Linked DNA regions of Homo sapiens. The protein of the gene in region 1 interacts with the protein of each later gene in a biochemical or structural test. Each region holds a gene or a part of one and is shown on either strand. Other genes may lie near its edges.

Region 1 (4,367 bases):
AAGGAAGGAGAAAGAGAGAGGAAGGAAGGAGAAAGAGAGAGGAAGGAAGGGAGGAAGAGAAGAAGGGAGGAAGAAAAGAAGGAAGGAAGGAGGGAGGGAGGGAAGGGAGGGAGGGAAAGAGGAAGAAAGGAGGGAAAGAAGGAAGGAAGAGAGAGAGGAAGGAAGGAGGAAGAGAGAAGAAGGAAGGAGGAAGACAGAGAGGGAGTAAGGAAGGAAGGAAGGAGAAAGAGAGAGGAAGGAAGAAATGAAGGAAGGAAGGAAAGAAAGAAAAAATAAAAGAGTGAAAACGGACTGGAGAAGAAGAAACCACAGTTGCTGCTATATCCACCAGCCTCTCTGCATGTCCTGGCCTCAGCCCTGCTGGGCTCTGGTACTGACCACTTCCTTCCTTCCTAATTTCCTAATTGACTAGGCCAGCTGAGCAGGGCTTTTCTGTGCTGAGGAGGTAAATCTCTGGATATCTAGACTGAGGGGTGGAAGGAGCCTTCCAGGGCACACATGAGACATGGCAGGGGTAGGCTGCTAGTTTTATTTTGTTTTCTTTTAGACACAGGGTCTTGCTCTGTTAACCAGGCTGGAGTGCAGTGGCGTGATTATAGCTCACTGCAGCCTTGACCTCCTGGGTCTCCCACAATCCTTCCGCTTCAGCCTCTTGAGTAGCTGGGACTGCAGGTGCACACTACCACACCCGGTCCATTTATTTTTATATTTCGTAGAGACAAGATCTTACAGTTTTGCACAGAGTGATCTTAAACTCTTGACCCCAAGTGATCCTCCTGCCTTGGCCTCCAAAAGCATTGGGATTATAGGAGTGAGCCACTGTGCTGGACCTAGTCTGTCAGCTTTGAAGCTTTAGATATGAACTCAGAGGGACTTCATTTCAGAGGCATCTGCCATGTGGCCCAGCAGAGCCCATCCTGAGGAAATGACTGGTAGAGTCAGGAGCTGGCTTCAAAGCTGCCCTCACTTCACACCTTCCAGCAGCCCAGGTGCCGCCATCACGGGGCTCCCACTCTCAACTCCGCAGCCTCAGCCCCCTCAATGCTGAGGAGCAGAGCTGGTCTCCTGCCCTGACAGCTGCCAGGCACATCTTGTTCCCTCAGGTTGCACAACTGGGATAAATGACCCGGGATGAAGAAACCACTGGCATCCAGGAACTTGTCTTAGACCGTTTTGTAGGGGAAATGACCTGCAGGGACTTTCCCCAGGGACCACATCCAGCTTTTCTTCGCTCCCAAGAAACCAGCAGGGAAGGCTCAGTATAAATAGCAGCCACCGCTCCCTGGCAGGCAGGGACCCGCAGCTCAGCTACAGCACAGATCAGGTGAGGAGCACACCAAGGAGTGATTTTTAAAACTTACTCTGTTTTCTCTTTCCCAACAAGATTATCATTTCCTTTAAAAAAAATAGTTATCCTGGGGCATACAGCCATACCATTCTGAAGGTGTCTTATCTCCTCTGATCTAGAGAGGTAAGCAGGGTCGGGCCTGGTAGTACTTGGATGGGAGAACACCTGGGAATACCAGGTGCTAAAGGCTTTAAGAATAAAAAATAATGATCCTGCTTTGTGTTTATCCCATGTTGAGTTCTGTGCGGGGCAGAGGGAACACACGGTAAATGCGTTATGGGGAATTATAGGCTACTTGAGGGAGTGACAGTCTGGTGGTAACTCCTGCCTTCCTCCATCAGTGCCACGTTGGCATCCTCTTATGCAGTCAGGCTTCAGGGCTGATGGGTTCAGAACCGAGGGCTTCTGGCTCTGAGTGAGGTCCTGCTGCAAGGTTTCCTAGATGAGCCACTGAGACTCTAATAAGATCCAGTGGAAATAACCAGGCTCTCGTCGGAATATAAGTCCCAAGGGAAGCTGTGCCAGTCTTGTGGGCGACTGCCTGACTTCTCCTTTCATTTCAGCACCATGAAGCTTCTCACGGGCCTGGTTTTCTGCTCCTTGGTCCTGGGTGTCAGCAGCCGAAGCTTCTTTTCGTTCCTTGGCGAGGCTTTTGATGGTAAGGCTTCAGAAGGTTTGCAGGATTTCTGAAGAGAAACATCACCCTGGACCTGATAAACTGGGGAAAATGATGCTTTCGGAAGGCTGCTTTTGAACCACAGAGTTGCTAGTGTCTGCGTTGCTGAGGCCTGCCAGGAACTAGGGTTTGCTGGGTTGCCTGTCTCGAGTCTTTCAGAGCTGCTGGGAATATCCCCTTTCCCCGTAGTGCAGCTTCTCAGGATGTGTTAAGTGGATGGATCACATTTCAGAAGCCGCTGCAAGGTGTATCAAAAACACATCTCCTGAGCCGTAAGGGACGGGGCATCCAGTAACAACGCACACGGGGTATTTTTGGGCTTCCTTAAGATTTGAGCCGCTGCCTTAGGTTGTGCTGCCCAATGTGCCTGGGGAGCTGCTAAACAGATTAGAGAGTCGAGGATTGTTGTCAGTTACTCAGAGAAAGAACAATCATCCTTTCCAGGAGCACCTGAGCTGTTTGTTTTGCGTAGAAGATGCAAAATAAGGCCTGCAATGGGTATAAAATGTCCCTCAGCATAAATCGCATAGGAGTATGACTAAGGCTGTTGACTCTTCTGTCTTCTTTCTCCTTCCTCCTTCGATTTCCTAGTTGGATAATGTACAGGGCTCTTTAGCCTCGCTCTGTCAGGGGCTCCCTTCCTGGTTTGTTCTGTTTCCATTCTTCCTTCTCCAGCCTTCTTGACAAGAGCTGGGAACTAACGTGCCTCAAGCCCCCACAAGGACCACAGCATTTTCTCATTTAGTTTCAGAATGACTCTGTGACGCAATCTTCCTCTCTTGGAAGGTGAGAAAGCTGATCTTGGAAGGTGAGAAAGCTGAGACTTAGAGCAGCTGAAGCCAATGCCCAGGGACTTACTGCCAGTCAGCAGGTGGCAGGGCAGAGGTTTGAGCCCGGCTGTGCTTGAGGTCAGGGCTCTTGCCAGGTAGACGCATCACTGACCACCTCCTAGAGGTTGATGGTTATGAATCTCAGGCACACCTTGGCATCACCTGAAATACCCATGCCTTCAACTCCCCAGCAGAGTCTGCAGAAACTGGCCTGGGGTGTGGCCTGGGCACTGGGACTTTCAGTTTCTCTCTGGGTGATTAGAAAGTGCAGCCAAGGCTCACGCCTGTAATTCCAGCACTTTGGGAGGCCAAGGTGGATGAATCACTTGAGGTCATGAGTTCCGGAGCAGCCTGGCCAACATGGTGAAACCCCGTCTCTACTAAAAATACTAAAATGTAGCCAGGCGTGGTGGCAGGCACCTGTAATCCCAGCTACTCAGGAGGCTGAAGCACGAGAATCACTTGAACCCGAGAAGCAGAGGTTGCAGTGACTAGAGATCGCACCAGTGTCCTCCAACCTGGGTGACAGAGCGAGACTCCATCTAAAAAAAATGAAAAAGAAAGTGCAGCCAAGGCAGAGCACCACTGCCCTATTGCTTCCTCAAGCAACCCACAGCATCAGTACAGCCTACTAAGAAAGTATTTAGGGACTTTTATGCTCCTAACAGTCACTGGAACTCACGTCACAATGACGTGTATTCCATTTGCAAGAATATATACTTTAGGTCGGGGTGCGGTGGCTCACGCCTGTAATCCCAGCACTTTGGGAGGCCAAGGCAGGGGGATCACGAGGTCAGGAGTTCGAGACCAGCCTGACCAACATGGTGAAATCCCCGTCTCTACTAAAAATACAAAAATTAGCCAGGCGTGATGGCGCATGCCTGTAATCTCAGCTACTCAGGAGGCTGAGGCAGAAGAATCTCTTGAACCTGGGAGGTGGAGGTTGCGATGAGCTGAGATAGCACCACTGCACTCCAGCCTGGGCGACAGAGCAAGACTCTGTCTAAAAAAAAAAAAAAAAAAAAAAAAAAAAAAAAGAATATAAACTTTAGTAGTCAGGGCAGAAGTACTCTGTGTCTGCCACCTTTCTCAGCATCAGTATTCCATGTCACTACCTCATTCATACACACTCCTGGATCTTATCATAGGCAGCTTCATTCTATAGCAGTGGCTCTTCACCAGGGCACTTGAAGAAGCCAACTAGGATAAAGGAATGTGCTTCTCAACCCATGGTATCCAAGGCTGCTATGATCACAGGCTGAAAGCTTGAAGTCAGTGGAAGATTTGTCCTTCCTCATTCCCCTCTAAGGTGTTGTTGGAGTCTTTATGTTCTCCTGATGTCCCTTCTGCCTTTCCTTTCCTTTCCAGGGGCTCGGGACATGTGGAGAGCCTACTCTGACATGAGAGAAGCCAATTACATCGGCTCAGACAAATACTTCCATGCTCGGGGGAACTATGATGCTGCCAAAAGGGGACCTGGGGGTGCCTGGGCTGCAGAAGTGATCACGTAACT
Region 2 (4,315 bases), on another chromosome or scaffold:
AGTATTTAGATGTAAGGCGGATTTAAAGCTAATCTGGGACTGAGAATTGCAACTAATTCCATAGAAGTCATTCAATTTAGCACATAAATGTTCCTGCAAGATGCCAGAGCAAGTGAGAAATCATCTGTAGCAAAGCAAAGAGTGGTGATGGTTCATCACCTTTTACAACGGAAAGGCAAACATGAAGAAGGAAATTCTCCCTCCTAAAATTCCTCATTAAATCGATAAGCTATCTTCACAGCCTTTATGGATAACATCCAGAGTCCTCGGTTCATCTGAGGAGTCCATTTTCAAGGTGGCCAACAGGGAAGAAGAGCTTTCAGGCTTCTCTTTGCTATGGCTCATGAATGCCAGGTCCCCTTTATTGCTTTCTGAACACACTGCTGGGAAAGCTTGATGAGGTCAGTGCTCAAATCCCTGCAGCTGTCCCCCTTGAGGAACTTCTTGGCAAACCTGCATTGAAGAAACACTGATTGCGTTCACGCTTCATGTCATGGTTTGCCTTCCCCACACTGCTCCTGGCGACAGTGGTGACGCAGCACTCGGATGTTGTCACCTATTCATTATTTTTTCAGTTCTATTCCCAATTCCCAACCCTTCTTTTGAAACACAGCTAGGTATGTGCACTTCAAATGCTCCAGAAAAACCCAAGGTCACATTTCAAATAGGATGGTTATGGTCACCATAAAGGTGGTGACGTTTGAGTGGTGGAAGAGGGTGCGGGACGGCGTTGCAGGCAGAGGAACACAGCCAGGACACTATTATAAGTAACTCTGTGATCGTGTCTTGTGGTGATACAGTATAATTCAACACAGGTTAGAGCAGTTACTATGATCGTTCTTTCCTAAAAGGCTTTGATTTTGGAGAAAGAACCTTGAGGATCGGTGGGGACTTTCTTGGCCTGAAAGGTATCACCAGCAGCAGGAGCAGGAGGCTGCTCACATTTCGTGTCTTCACTTGGGGTGGACGTTGGCTGCAACCCTCAAATGCTGGGAGTCGTCAACCAACTGAGCCCTGTTGTCCAATGTGCCCCGGGCAAGGATGTGGGTGCAAATCCTGCTTCCGGGCGACCACTGACTTCCTTGGCTTCAGTGTCCAATTAGAAAAAAAAAAGAAAGTAGAAATTCGGTAAGAAATCCGTGAACGAGGTCCGTCCTCCACCCCCGACTCAAGCCAAGAGATAGCACAGAACGTTCCCACACGCGCTGTCCCGGCCCCGGCGAGCGTAGCCGGGATTTCTCCCCCGCCACGCCCCTCGGCCACGCCCCCCTGCGTTTGGCCCAGCGACGGGGCGGGGTCGGCCTGCGATTGGCCGGGACCACGACCGCGTCCGGGCGCGCCACGTGTGCGTAGGAGCGCACCGGAAGCGCCCGGCTGGAGGCGCGGCGGCAGGGCTGGGCGGCGGCGGCGGCGGCGGTCATGGAACGCCAAGAGGAGTCTCTGTCCGCGCGGCCGGCCCTGGAGACCGAGGGGCTGCGCTTCCTGCACACCACGGGTGAGTCGTTGCGGGGCAGCCGGGCGCGCGCCGCCACTTTTGCGACGCGCAGCCATGATGGGTGGGTCGTCCGCCGCTGCACCGGGCGCCGGAGCCTGGGAGGCCTGGGAACGGTCGGGCGTTGGCGCTTACGCGGACCTTGGGCAGCAGGCCCGGACCTTGCGCGGAGGCTTCTCGGGAGCCGCACTTCCCTGGGCGGCTCGGCTGTCCCTTGTTTGCGCAAGTCTTTTTTGCGAACCAAGCCCTTCCTGTGGTAGTTACTGGGGTCACTCGGCCGTTGGCGTTTGCCTCTGGGACCCGTCCCACACAGCCCCATACACACTCCTGACTCCCCGCGCTGTCACCCCTTTCTATGTGGCTCTGAAAGGCCTTTGCCTTCCTGATTCAGATTAGTTGCTCTTCATTCTTCAAAACCCAGTTGCTGTGCCCTCCACACTCTAACTGCCCCCGACTCCCCAGATGGTTGGGAAGTCTCACTTCTCAGTGATCCCTGAATTGTCGCACTTCTTGAGTTCGTGTTTTAACGATCTACTTAGGAGGCTTTTTCCTCAGCCTAGACCATGAAGGCTTTGAGGGCAGGAGTTACACTTTGTGTTTGTTGAGTCTTATGGAAAGGTCAACTAGTAGTGTCATTTTTAGTTTTTTGAAAACTGTTTTTCTTTTCAGTGGGCTCCCTGCTGGCCACCTATGGCTGGTACATCGTCTTCAGCTGCATCCTTCTCTACGTGGTCTTTCAGAAGCTTTCCGCCCGGCTAAGAGCCTTGAGGCAGAGGCAGCTGGACCGAGCTGCGGCTGCTGTGGGTTAGTGCCTGATAACCGAAATGAAAGCGGTGGTTTTGCACCTCCTTTATATTAAGAGTTAGTCTCTTAGTAAAAGTAAGAGGGGCCACACAGGAAGACCCTGTCTCTATTTAAAAAAAAAAAAAATAGCCGGGAGTGGCGGCACGCACCTGTAGTCCCAGCTGCTCAGGAGGCTGAGGCGGGATAATCACTTGAGTCCAGGGAGTCAAAGCTGCAGTGGGCTATGCTCGGGCCACACTACACTCCAGCCTGGGCAATTGATTGAGACCTTGTCTTTAAAAAAAAAAAAAAAAAAAAAGTAGGAAGTATATGGTTCTCGGTGGGGCGCGGTGGCTCACACCTGTAATCCCAGCACTTTGGGAAGCCGAGGCAGGAGGATGACTTGAGGTCAGGGGTTCGAGAACAGCCTGGCCAACATGGTGAAACCCTGTCTCTACTAAAAATACAAATATTAGTGGGGCGTGGTGACGGGCACCTGTAATCCCAGCTATTAGGGTGGCTGAGGCAGGAGAAATCGCTTGAACCTGGGAGCTGGAGATTGCAGTGAGCTGAGATTGTGCCACTGCACTCCAGCCTGGGCAACAGAGTGAGACTGTCTTTTCTTTCTTTTTTTTTTTTTTTTCTATGAGATGGAGTCTAGCCTTGTTGCAAAGAGCGAGACTCTATGAGTAGACGTTATGAATAGAAATGAGTTCATTTCTATTCATAATGCTATTTGGAAGGATTTTTCTTTTCTGTAGAAACAAATACTTAAGAATCTTCTGCGCTAATTAAGGGATGGATAATGATTTAGAAAACTTTATATTTCCTTGGTAGTCTTCCAGGATTCTAGTCAGCCTAGAGACTGTGGGTGTCACTGAGGTATCCAAGATGTGCTCTGTGTGGCCACTATCCCAGGCTTTATGAATCGGAATTGCTCAGGGGAACTCAGAAATTGGCATTTCTAACAGATTTCTGGTGATGTAGATATTTCGGGCTAAAATCCGTGGCTCAGCAACAGACCCCTGCCCCCTGAAGCAGTAAAATGTATGCAGAGGGGTTAGGAGTACTTATGTAAAAATATGTTGTTTCATTGTCTGATATCCATACCTCTTTATACTTTTAATAATATGGACACTCAAAAGTTTCTATTTTATATTGTACACAGTGCTTTATCTCCATTTTTTTCTGACATTTTAGAACCTGATGTTGTTGTTAAACGACAAGAAGCTTTAGCAGCTGCTCGACTGAAAATGCAAGAAGAACTAAATGCGCAAGTTGAAAAGCATAAGGAAAAACTGAAACAAGTATGAACTGGTTTCAGTTTGAATGTGTGCATAGAAATTGTCTGAGGTTTAGTGGCTAACGATGCCTGTGTCTGTGTTGTCTATAAGCTTCTAGGACCAGGTCCTATCCCATTAGATTCAATAAGCATTTCAGTTCCTACCATGTAAGTATTGGTGATATCAAGAAGAATACACGATTGTTAGGGAACACTAGATGTGTGAATATATTACCATGAAAGGTCCAGAGCACAAAAGGAGGGACAGGCTGGAGCAGGGAGCATGTGAGTGTGTGTGTGCATGTGCCTGTGTCTTCCCCATTACCAAAAATGTCCTGACAGGAGTGAGTTTCAGAAGAATGGAGTCAGTAATCTTTTTCATGAAACATTTTGCTTTCTTTAATAGTGTACAAAAACCAAAGCTGCTCTATGTGAGTTAAACTCACACTACCAGATCACAACAGTTTTATTAACTAAAGAAAACGAGGGTGAAGTTTGTTCTGAAAGACATTTAAATTAAGAATTATCAGAGTTAGCTTTGTCTTTGAGAGAAATGGCAGCTTCTGAATTCTTTCTGTAAAATGTGATTGTTTCTCAGCTTGAAGAAGAAAAAAGGAGACAGAAGATTGAAATGTGGGACAGCATGCAAGAAGGAAAAAGTTACAAAGGAAATGCAAAGAAGCCCCAGGTGACTGGAGACCTCGGCCGGCTGGCATGCGGTAGATGAAGATTGCCAAGTAGAATGTTTTAATTGCTTC

Evidence for each region.
Region 2: the proteins of SAA1 (region 1) and SELENOS form a complex in vitro, tested with the Homo sapiens proteins (one study listed by BioGRID).

Annotation. Positions count from the first base shown.
Region 1 is NC_000011.10:18,264,973-18,269,339, forward strand, and holds the start of SAA1 (serum amyloid A-1 protein preproprotein), read left to right. Parts: upstream 1-1,291; 5' UTR 1,292-1,324; exon of another isoform or gene 1,325-1,471; intron 1,472-1,911; 5' UTR 1,912-1,915; coding exon 1,916-2,006; intron 2,007-4,222; coding exon 4,223-4,361; intron 4,362-4,367. UniProt on the Homo sapiens protein: Major acute phase protein.
Region 2 is NC_000015.10:101,274,522-101,278,836, reverse strand, and holds the start of SELENOS (selenoprotein S), read left to right. Parts: upstream 1-1,351; 5' UTR 1,352-1,419; coding exon 1,420-1,495; intron 1,496-2,161; coding exon 2,162-2,296; intron 2,297-3,475; coding exon 3,476-3,582; intron 3,583-4,155; coding exon 4,156-4,245; intron 4,246-4,315. UniProt on the Homo sapiens protein: Involved in the degradation process of misfolded endoplasmic reticulum (ER) luminal proteins. Participates in the transfer of misfolded proteins from the ER to the cytosol, where they are destroyed by the proteasome in a ubiquitin-dependent manner.